2 separate regions of the Homo sapiens genome follow, and region 2 is linked to region 1. The links come from fine-mapping of genetic effects on gene expression. A gene starts in region 1. The other region holds a variant in brackets. All regions are shown on one strand. Distances are from middle to middle.

Region 1 (5,246 bases):
CATGGTCTCACTCTGTCTTTCATTTCACAGAGACCCTGTCTGGGAAAAAAAAAAAAAAAAAAAAGGAAAGGAGAGAGGGAAGAAAGGAAGGAAGGAAGAAAGAAACTGTGGAAGAAACTAAGCTTTATTTTTGACATTTTATTATATTTACTTATTTATTTTTGAGACACGGTTTCACTCCTGTCACCAGGCTGGAGTGCAGCAGTGTGCTCTCAGCTCACTACAACCTCTGCCTCCTGGAATGAAGTGATCCTCTTGCCTCAGCCTTTCCAGTAGCTAGGATTACAGGCGCCCACCACCACACTTGCCTAATTTTTTGTATTTTTAGTAGGGACGGGGTTTCACCATGTTGGCCAGGCTAGTCTCAAACTCCTGACCTGAAGTGATCCACCCGCCTCAGCCTCCCAAAGTGCTGGGATTACAGGCGTGAGCCACTACGCCTGGCCTATTTTTGACATTTTAAATTGGAAATGCTGGTGAGGTGAACAAGTGGAGCTATCTAGTAGAAAAATGAAAATATAAGTTGGATTTCAAGAAATTTGGGAGCTTTCAGTGCTGATGCAGGCAATCAACACCGTGGGAACAGATGTGATTTGTGGGAGAGAATTTTCACTTATGCAGAAAAGAGGCCTAAGGCTGTGGACACCTGTTGAACATTTCCATATTTCTGTCCTGTGGGAGTCACAGATTCAGCATGTCCAAAATGGAATTAATCATCTTTCCACTAAACCCGTTTATCTTCTTGACTTCTCTAGCTGTGCAGATGGCACTGACCATTGTCTTAGTTGCCCTAGCTCAAAACCTCAGCTATCTTTGTCTCCTACCTTGACTTTTTTTCACCTATAGAACATTCTGAAAATCCACAAAAAACAATAGATAGGAGATATAATCATTGATAATGAAACCATTTCGGATATTGTATGGTGGCTTCTTCTGGTCATATTCCTTTGCGAGTATAGATTTAATTTCCTTTGTATGGGAATCATACTCTACATTTTTAGAGTAATCTTTTTATTGAAGTATAACAGTCATGCAGAAATGTACACAATCATAAGTCGATGGCTTTTCATGTCATTAAATATTCTTTTGCAACATTAATTTTTAAAAGTTGCAAGATATTCCACCCATAGATGTACCATAATTTAGTTAACTAACCCCTGTTGTAGAACTTCTGGCTTTTTCTAGTTTCCTCATCTCTCCCTCAGAAATGCTGCAGAGATGATTTACCTATATTTAACATTTTTGCGCCCATTTCCAATTTTTCCTTAGAATACAATTCTTTGGGGCAAAATTTCAGGGTCCAAGGTATGTGCATATTTTTAAATAAACTTTTTTATTTTAGGATAATTTTGGGTTTAGATAAAAATTATGAAGATTGTTACAGTTTCTGTGTAATTCACACTTTCTCCTATTATTCACTTTTTTTTTTTTTTTTTGTGACGGCTGAGTCTCACTCTGTCGCCCAGGCTGGAGTGCAGTGGCTCGATCTCTGCTCACTGCAACCTCCGCCTCCTGGGCTCAGGCGATGCTCTTGCCTTAGCCTCCTGAGTAGGGACTGGGACTACAGGCATGTGCCACCACACCTGGCTAATTTTTTGTATTTTTAGTAGAGACGGGGTTTCACCATGTTGGCCAGGCTGATCTCGAAATCCTGACCTCAGGTGATCCGCCCACCTCAACCTCCCAAAGTGCTGGAATTACAGGTGTGAGCCACCACACCAGGCTATTCACTCTTACAGAAGTATAACACATCTCACAATTGCAACCAATATTGATACGTTATTATTATTATTATTATTTTGAGACGGAGTTTCACTCTTGTAGACCAGGCTGGAGTGCAATGGTGCGATCTTGGCTCACTGCAACCTCCGCCTCCCAGGTGCAAGTGATTCTCCTGCCTCAGCCTCCCGAGTAGCTGGGATTACAGGCACGTGCCACCATGCCCATGTAATTTTTGTATTTTTAGCAGAGACAGGTTTTCACCCTGTTAGCCAGGATGGTCTCAATCCCCCAACCTCAGGTGATCCGCCTGCCTCGGCCTCCCAAAGTGCTGGGATTACAGGCGTGAGCCACCTCACCCGGCCCGATACATTATGATTAACTAAAGTTGATACTTTATCCAGATTTCCTTAGTTTTTACCTAATGTTCTTTTTTCAATTGCAGCGTCACACCCAGGACACCATATTACATTGTCATGCCTCCTTAGGCTCCTCTTGGCTCTGAGTTTCTTAGACTTCCCTTGCCTTTGCTGATCTTAACAATTTTGAAGAATACTGGTCATGCACTCTGCAGAATGTCCCTCAATTCGGGTTTGTCTGATTTTTTTTTCTTATAATTAGACTGGGTTATGAGATTTGGAAGGAAAGTACCATAAAGTGCCATTCTCATCATATATCATTCCACATACTATCAACATGATTTAGCACATAGTCTTGATCACCTGGCTGAATTACTGTTTGCCAGGTTTCTCCCCTGTAAAATCACTCATTTTCCCCTTTACAGATGTTGTACTTTTGGGAAGGAAGTCACTATGCACAGCCCACATTTAAGGAGGCAGAAGTTATGCTGCAGGATGGCTGTCTACATAAGTTATTTGAGATTCTTCTGTGGGGGATTTATCTCTTCTTCCTCATTCGTTAATTTATTCAATCACTTATATCGGCATGGGCTCATGAATATTTCTTTTGTACTTTGAGTTATAATCCAATATCACTTGTTTTATTGCTCAAGGCAATTTGAAATGTTCTGAGTAACTCAGTGCAAAACAACCTCTTCCAAAGGTTGTACCAGCTCACAGGGTAGACGTCATTAAGATCCATTTCCCCTCAACTTCACAGACCCATTAAAAAGGTCAGAAAGCAAGAGATAAGCTGACATCCCTGCCTAGCGCCCAATTTCTGGAAGCCCCTAAGGAAGATGAGGCCAGCATGCAGGGGTCTTTCCCCACGTGGGGCACCTCAACCCCTGAGACGCCCTTTCCCGGCCAGACCCTATTCAACACCCCTCCTTGTCCCCTGCCCCATCTCCTGGCTTCCTGTGGCTCCGCCCACCGCGGGGCGGAAGTGGGTGTGGCCACGGGCGGAAGCACTGGGTCAGGGGCCCAATCGTGCAGCCAGCCCCTCCCACTCGCCACCGCCCCACCCCTCCGGCCCAGACCGGAAATGAGGTCAGAGAGGGAAGCCCCGGCGGTGAGAGTCGGCCCAAAAAGCGGCGGCCGTTGGAGGTGGCTGCGGCAGCTGGTGAGGGGGAGGAATGGGTTGAGAGTGTTGGGGTCCTGGGGGCTAGTACCAGAGGGGATCGGAGCGCCAAGCCGCGGCTGAGCGGCTAAGGGCGTCTTGGGGCTGCGGCAGACGGCCGGAGGGTGAGGGTGGTGGGGCCTTGCTTTTCAGGGCCCTTGTCCCCATCCCTGGGGATGTGGGTCGGGCCGTCTCCGGGGCCACAGCCCCCTCTTCCCCTTTCTTCTTTCTGCCTCTCTGGGGCGGGCTGCAGCCTGAGGGCTTGGTGTCCCGAGCCATGGTCGCCCCAGCCCTCAGGGACGGGCCGGGGCGTGGTGGAGAGTCCTTCGAAACACAGTTTTTGTCATATATGTGGCCATGTTGCGACCCCCGATCCCGGAGGGAGCTCAGTCGCCAAGACTTGCATTTTGGCAGTTTCTGCCCTAGAAGAGCCGATCCCCGCCCCTCGTGAGCCCAAATGAGCAGTTGCCTCCTGCCTCTCCCACCTCCTACTCCGCCCCTCACTTCCACCCTGCTCCTGTCTCTCTTCTTACTTGCTGTCCACCAGCTACCCGTTCCTTCCTGTGCGTGACTCAGCCTCATCTCTGCCCGGGTGCGTGCCTGGCCGCCGGGTCCTCTCGAGAGTGTGCATCCGCGACTGGAGATGGGGAGTTCTAGGGTTCTTTTGTCACTACTGTTGGAATTACAGGCTTTGAGGCAGGAAAGGATTCTGCACAGGCATTCGACTGCAAGTTGTTTGATGACTTCGTTCCATGTTCAAGTTTGTGCTGTTCTGCCTGAGGTTTTTATTTGTTCTTTTGTTTTTGTTTTTTGTATTTTTGTTGCCTGAGTTTTTAAAGCAGTAATTCTTTATTAGGGAAGTAGATTTTGACATGCTGTTCCCACTTGTTTCTTTATTTTGGTCTTAGGGACAGTTGTCTCCCAAACCTCAATCATGGCATTTTAATCCACTTTTTTTTTTCCCATTTTTTCCCCTTCTTTTCACAGGTGTTGATAAACCACTTCTTAATGCTTAAAAGAACTTGGTCTTGTTTAAATGTATGTGCTTTTGGACACTTTGAGAAGCTTCGTTTGTATGGTAGTTTTGGAAGTAGGTGTCACTATTGCTCCTACAGGTGTGGCAGATAAGCCAGAGGACTGTTTTCCTGTCTTTAAGTTCATTGGCATAGGCACAGCATGAAAATAGGTTTTAGAAAGCCCTTTGCAAAGTGAAAACTGAATGAATGGGAATATGGTCAGAGAGTGGCACCACTTAGAATTTTAAGCTGATCTTGAAATACTTTGGGCATAGAGGCAAGAGAAAAGTGCTAAAAATTTAATATGTATTTAATTAGATGCTGTACAAATTAAATATTTCCCCTTAAGGGGGAATTTTGAAGATTGCTCCTACTACTGTCATTTCTTGAAATGTTTGTCTCTGAAGTGACCCCTGAAGTGTGATGTTTGGTTTGAGGATGAACAGAAAAATAAGAAATTTTGGAAAGCAGTTTGGCCAGAAATCTTAGAAACTTCACCCTATCCCTGTCATTTCAGCTGCTATTGTATCCTAGTTTTCTGTGATTGTGTGGCACTGAAGCACATAACTAGGACCAACATTTATTTTCTGGAGGGTAGGAGAGGGGCTTAAAAATTGTTAATTATTCAAAAATATATGACATACTGTATAAGGTTCTATACCTGGTAGCTTCCAGGTGGTAGTTGGTACCAGAATGGGCGCAAACTTAGTCTCTTCTCCATTCTGACTTCAAACCTGGGTCACTACAATTTCTTGGATCACGAAAACTGCATTCTTCCTTAAATGGTGTCACTAAGTTGTCTTTCTGTTTCTTTCTGCCATGGTCATTGTCAGCAGTGACCCCAGGCCAAAGAACAGTTTTTCATTCATTCTCAATACCTCGATGAGACCATGTGCTACTCTGTGTTTCCACAACTCTAGTGTGATTTTGAAGTTGTATGTTTTTCTGTTCCTGTCTAGTGAGACAGTCTCTAATCTTTCTGGATCTCATCAT
Region 2 (5,246 bases), 48 kb after region 1:
TGGTTCATACTGGACAATCTTCATTACAGGTCTGATGATTATAGTACTTTTTTTTCAGTGCTTTCCACATGGCCAGGCCCTGAGCTGAACACTTTGTAAACATTATTTCACCTAATCTTTGCAACAGCCTTATAAGGTAGATGCTGTTTTTATTCCCAATTTACACATGAGAAAACCAAGGCTTAAATCACTTCCCTGAGGCCACATGGTTGATAAATTGCAGAGCCAAGATCAGACCGGTTTCCTTGTGACTCTAGAGCTGTCCTGCAGATGTTCTTCTTTTTATATAAAACAAGATCAAGTCTAGACTATGACTGTGCATCAAAACTCAGATCCTCATTCAGTCTATGGTATTGGAAGCATTAAAAGAAAACCACCCCTCTTTCATCTTTTTGTTCTTTTTTTCTCCTTAATATCTAGCTTTTATTTTTAGCTTTTAATTGTTTATAAGAGAGGAACCACTGGAAAGAGTTTAAAATCCTTGTTCCATTTTCAGGTTGGGAAGTGTACGTGTGTGGGGGTGGGTATTAAACAAGACTTGAGCATTAAGCATTTCCCCTCCTGAGCCCAGCTCCTTTCCTCACTTGTTGACTAAGCCCTGCTTCACTGAGCATTTTCTTTTTTTCTGCCCACAACCTGAGTGCCCCATGGAGGTGAAGGACATAGCCTGAGTCTGAGCCATCAGTCAGTAGAACAAATGGGCTTGCTCTGCCTAACATCGGGCCATCTCGGATTCCACCTCTTTTATAGGAATGAGTGATGAAGAGAGGTGGGTTCCGCTTTGCCGCTGTATTAATACACATCAGGGGCCAGCTCCTAGCACTAAATCACGCTACGGCATACATCTGTTATCGGACTCTTCACCAGTGTGATGAACAAGACTGCAGATAGAGGCTTCCTTGTGTCATTCTTTATAGGATTTTCCTAAAAGAATAAATAGCTCAGATCTCTGCCAACACTCTCCCCTGTCACTGTGATGAATTCAGCTTCTTTCTTAAACATGCAGCCACAAATCTTTTCCCTTTTTCCCCTCCCCCAGTGGTAGAAAGTTTTGAGTTGCAATTGACTGAATTTAAAGATATTAATAAGGCTAGAGAGGTGAAGAGCAGGAAGAAACAGCATGTCTTCCTTGCCTTTTTGTACTAATAGTAACAAAAGGCCAAGGAAAAAGACTGTAAATGACCATAGGTTGTTAAATAGACCCATCTTGAAAGTGTAGCACCTTTATTTTCTTTGTATCTTCATTCTCCCTCCTTTACGGCTTTCTAGCATGCAGGTGTCTAGTGCACAGAACCACACCCTGGATCTTAGTGAGCAAGCATGCTAACCTGCTTCTCAGACTTGATACACCAGAACAGGGATTTCCCTGCAAGTGTCTCCCTCATGCTGAAGTGAACTAGCTGAATATGCTCTTAAAGAAAGTAGTCAGAAAAGAAAAAAAAGATTATCTTCTCCAAAATTTGAGACCAAGTAGCTGTAAAAAACATAATAAACCCAGATGAAAACCAGGCTTCGTTTTCTTGAAATGATTTTCTTCATCAGAATGGTAGATCAGAGCCATTGGTGTGCAGATTCCAATCCTTTAAAAAGTAAACACATGCCTTTTGATAAAGCGGAATTGAGGTGATCAGAAATTCTGTTGAGAACCCAGCTATTTGTGTGAGTATATTTTAGCTATCCCAAAAACTTTTTCTGACCTTTCTCTTTCTGGGATAGGATATGTGTGCTTAGAGTATCATTCAGAAGGGTACCTAATAGTTAATCTGTTAATTAGTTACATCAGGTTTCAAATACTAGGTCAGTGATATGAGAGCGAGAGAGAGAGATTTGAATTGTCAAATGTATTGTCAGATGCATTCACAAGAGCAGGACTGCTTATCTGTTTTGTTCACTACTGTACCCCTAGCATCTAAATGAATACCTAGCCCATAGAATAAACCCACTGGTTATTTGTTGTAAGAATAAATTAATAGAATCTTAAAGTTGAAACAGAGTGATTCCTAATATATTGTAACCACATGGTTGGATTCAGTAGTTCCATTTTAGGATGTCCCTTTTCTCAGGAGTCATAGGGCAAATTCTTATTGCCCACTGTGTCTTTTTAAAGTTTAAATGTTTTTTAAAATTAAACATGTTTCTTAGTAAATATTGAAGGGGTATAAAAGAACATTTATAGCAGATATGTAAGGAGTAAATAAAATACAGCAAATATCCACGTACCTACCATTCACTTTAAGAAAAAGTTAAAATTTTCTTTTATAAAAGGTTTAAAAGTTTTAAAAAGTTAAAATCTTTAAAAATCTTCTCCCTGCTCTCCTCAGAGGTAAAAGTTATTCTGATTGTTTTTTATCGTTTGTCATTCTTTTGTTTTTTTCAAGTAGTTTTAGCAGACATATGTATCTTCAAGCAATACATTGTCCAGTTTTGTGTTTTTGAACCTTGTGTATATGAAATCAAAGTATGTCATATTTTATGTTGCAGCTTTCACCGGGTTCTGTTTTTGAGATTCAATTATGCTTTGTCCTGCCAAAATCTATGTTTCAACTGCCATGTATGTGGTATTCTAT[T/A]GTATGAATATGATTAATATGTTATAATTAAATGTTCTTGATGAACATTTGGATTGTATTCCTGTTTTATGCTATTATGGAAAATACTGCACTGTTCTCTGAGAGAACAAGTGCAAACATTCTTTTAGGCCACTTCCTGCTCATTAGGATGGCTATATCAAAAAACAGAGAACATCAGGTGTTGGTGCAGATGTGGAGAAATTGGAACCCTTGTGTAGTGCTTGTGGGAAGGTAAAATCATGCATTGCTGTGGAAAACAGCATGTAAAAAAACAGTTCCTCAAAAAGTTAAACACAAAACTACCATATGATCCAGCAGTTCTGTTTCTGTGCATATACCCAAAAGAATGAAAAGCAGAGACTCAAAATAGATTTTTGCATACCTTTGTTTACAGCAGCATTATTCACAGTCGTCAAGGTGGAAACAAATCACATGTCCATTGCTGGATGAATGGATGAACACAATTTGCCGTATATATACAATGGAATATTATGTAGCTTGAAAGCCTTTCTTATTCAGAATGAAACTCTGCCATGTGCTACAAATTGGATGAAGACATTTGCTAAGTCAAATAAGTTAGACACAAAAGGAGAAATATTGTGTGATTCCACTTTTATAAGCTACTAGAATAGTCAACTTCATACAAACAGAAAGGAACATAGTGGTTGCCAGGGGCTAGGGGAAGAGGGAAATGGGGGGAGTTATTGTTTAATGGGTACAGAGTTTCCATTTGAGATGATGAAAAAGTCCTGGTGATAAATAGTGGTGACAGTTATACAACAGTGTGAATGTACTTAATGCGACTGAACTGTACAGTTAAAAATGGATAAGATAGCAAATTTTATGTATATTTTACTATAATAAAAAATAGCAAAAAAGTTTTTCTAGGGTAGTGCTTTTTTCACTGCAGTTTGGTGACCATGTAGGTACAGTTTTTTGAAATTTATTACCAGTTAAATATGAGTGAGTATATGTGCCTGAGTTTGTTGTGAGTGTGTGTGTATGAGAGAGAAAAAGAGAGAGATTTGAGTTGTCAAATGTATTTCCTGCTGCTGTGGTGACGTTCCAAAATGTTTGAAAGCTGTTGCCCTCAAGAAACTCTTGTATATAGAGTAACAGCTTTCAAGATATTTTTACATTAGCCCACAATAAGAAATTCATGTTTGAATATGTGCGTTGGTTGTACATGTAAATCTGAAATAAATCTTGGGTACATGCCGATACTTTCTATTTTTTTCATTGAGTAAAAAAAGTAATGGCCATGACCCACTAAATTGATTTTGTGATCCACAATTTGAAAATTACTGTTTTAGGTTACGTTTCTGGGACTGGAATTATTGGGTGACGGTAAAATCCAAACTTCCCTAGATTTTGCCATATTTTAGTATATATTTGTTCTCAGCAGAGTGGGTAGAGATGATGGTGGTTTGTGCCACTCCACTCAGGGGCATTTGGAAATGTGAAGTAAATGTTTGTTTGTCACAATGACTGGGGAGTGTTCCTGGCATTCAGCAGATAGGATCCAGATCGGTAAGTGTTCTGAAGTATACAAGACAGCCCTGCACAAGCCATGTCTCCTGTCCAGAATGTCTTTAGTGATCTTATTGAAAAATATTGGGCCTGATTGTGCTCTTTTTCTACCATTTTCCTTGTTGTATGGTATATATTTATTGGTAACACTGCCCTATCGGAGGCATGGGTTGTGGCAGGAAGAGCGTGGGGTTTAGAGTCCAGTATGTGTGCTTGAATCTTGATATTTAACCAGCTCTGTTTTATCCCTGAACAATTTATCTGATCTCTGTATACCTTAGCTCCCTGATCTAGAAAGTGGAGATCACTATGAGTCATCTCTATGAGCATCTATGAGTAAGGGTTTGCATTAACAAGATCATGAGTATTCATTGTTTAAGCAATACACACATAAGTACGTAATAAGTGATTTTTACTACATTATGAATGCGTGCTACTGAATTTATTTGTTCAGTTGAACCCATTTTCTCAGATTAGGAAATACTATCTTATTTAAATCTTGTCTTTACTTTTTTGTAGAGAAGAAAGAGATACCTTACGTGGCCACTTGGGTTACTAGGACATGAAGTATAAGGATTAAGAAAATTTTTTTTCTAAGTATCTCTCATTCTAATTTGTCTTATTCTAATTTATCTCCCCTTGATGTTTTGCTCCTCTCTGTTGTAACCTTACTAGTTCACATGGATGCAGTGGAGCCAACCACACCAGCATCACAAGCCCCCAAATCACCCAGCTCTGAGTGGTTGGTGAGGACCTCTGCAGCAGAGAAAGCCACAGACGCAACTACTGCTACATTTTTTAAAATGCCACAAGAAAAGAGCCCTGGATACAGCTAGAGAGCAGGACTTCACCCTCCAGGAGCTGACTGGGTGTTGCTGAAGCAAATGTTGGACTTTGTGTTAGATAGTCTTGCATATCTTAATCGACATTCCCAGTCCTTTCACCACCAGAACCAACTCCTCTTTCAAACACAGCAGTGGATTCTTTCTCTCAGAAGATCATGTTGTGGGAATCTTTTTTTTAAATAGTGAAATATTGAGGCAGCAATTTTTTACAAAAAGGTCATCCTCTGCTCTATTTGTTACCTTGTTATTGCTGTCTCAACATTTACTACAGCTCCATTTACAGAACTGTTGCTTTTTTGCAGTT

Alleles and levels. Alleles are on the strand shown, and positions count from the first base shown. SD is a standard deviation of normalised expression in the study named.
As copies of T replace A in region 2, the expression in thyroid of the gene that starts at base 3,171 in region 1 goes down (moderate effect, 0.55 SD a copy in GTEx).

What was found. PIP is the estimated chance that this variant, and not a neighbour inherited with it, causes the effect.
Region 2: its variant is fine-mapped to the expression of GPATCH2L in thyroid (GTEx, PIP 0.96).

Annotation. Positions count from the first base shown.
Region 1 is chr14:76,148,752-76,153,997 of GRCh38, forward strand. GPATCH2L (G-patch domain containing 2 like) reads left to right here and starts at 3,171. Exons shown (of 10, transcript NM_017926.4): 1 at 3,171-3,240.
Region 2 is chr14:76,196,919-76,202,164 of GRCh38, forward strand. GPATCH2L (G-patch domain containing 2 like) reads left to right here. Exons shown (of 10, transcript NM_017926.4): 10 at 4,773-5,246. The coding sequence ends at 4,933. Among named protein-coding and RNA genes, the nearest start is that of GPATCH2L, 48 kb to the left of the region's middle. The variant T/A (reference allele first, on the strand shown) is at 2,568.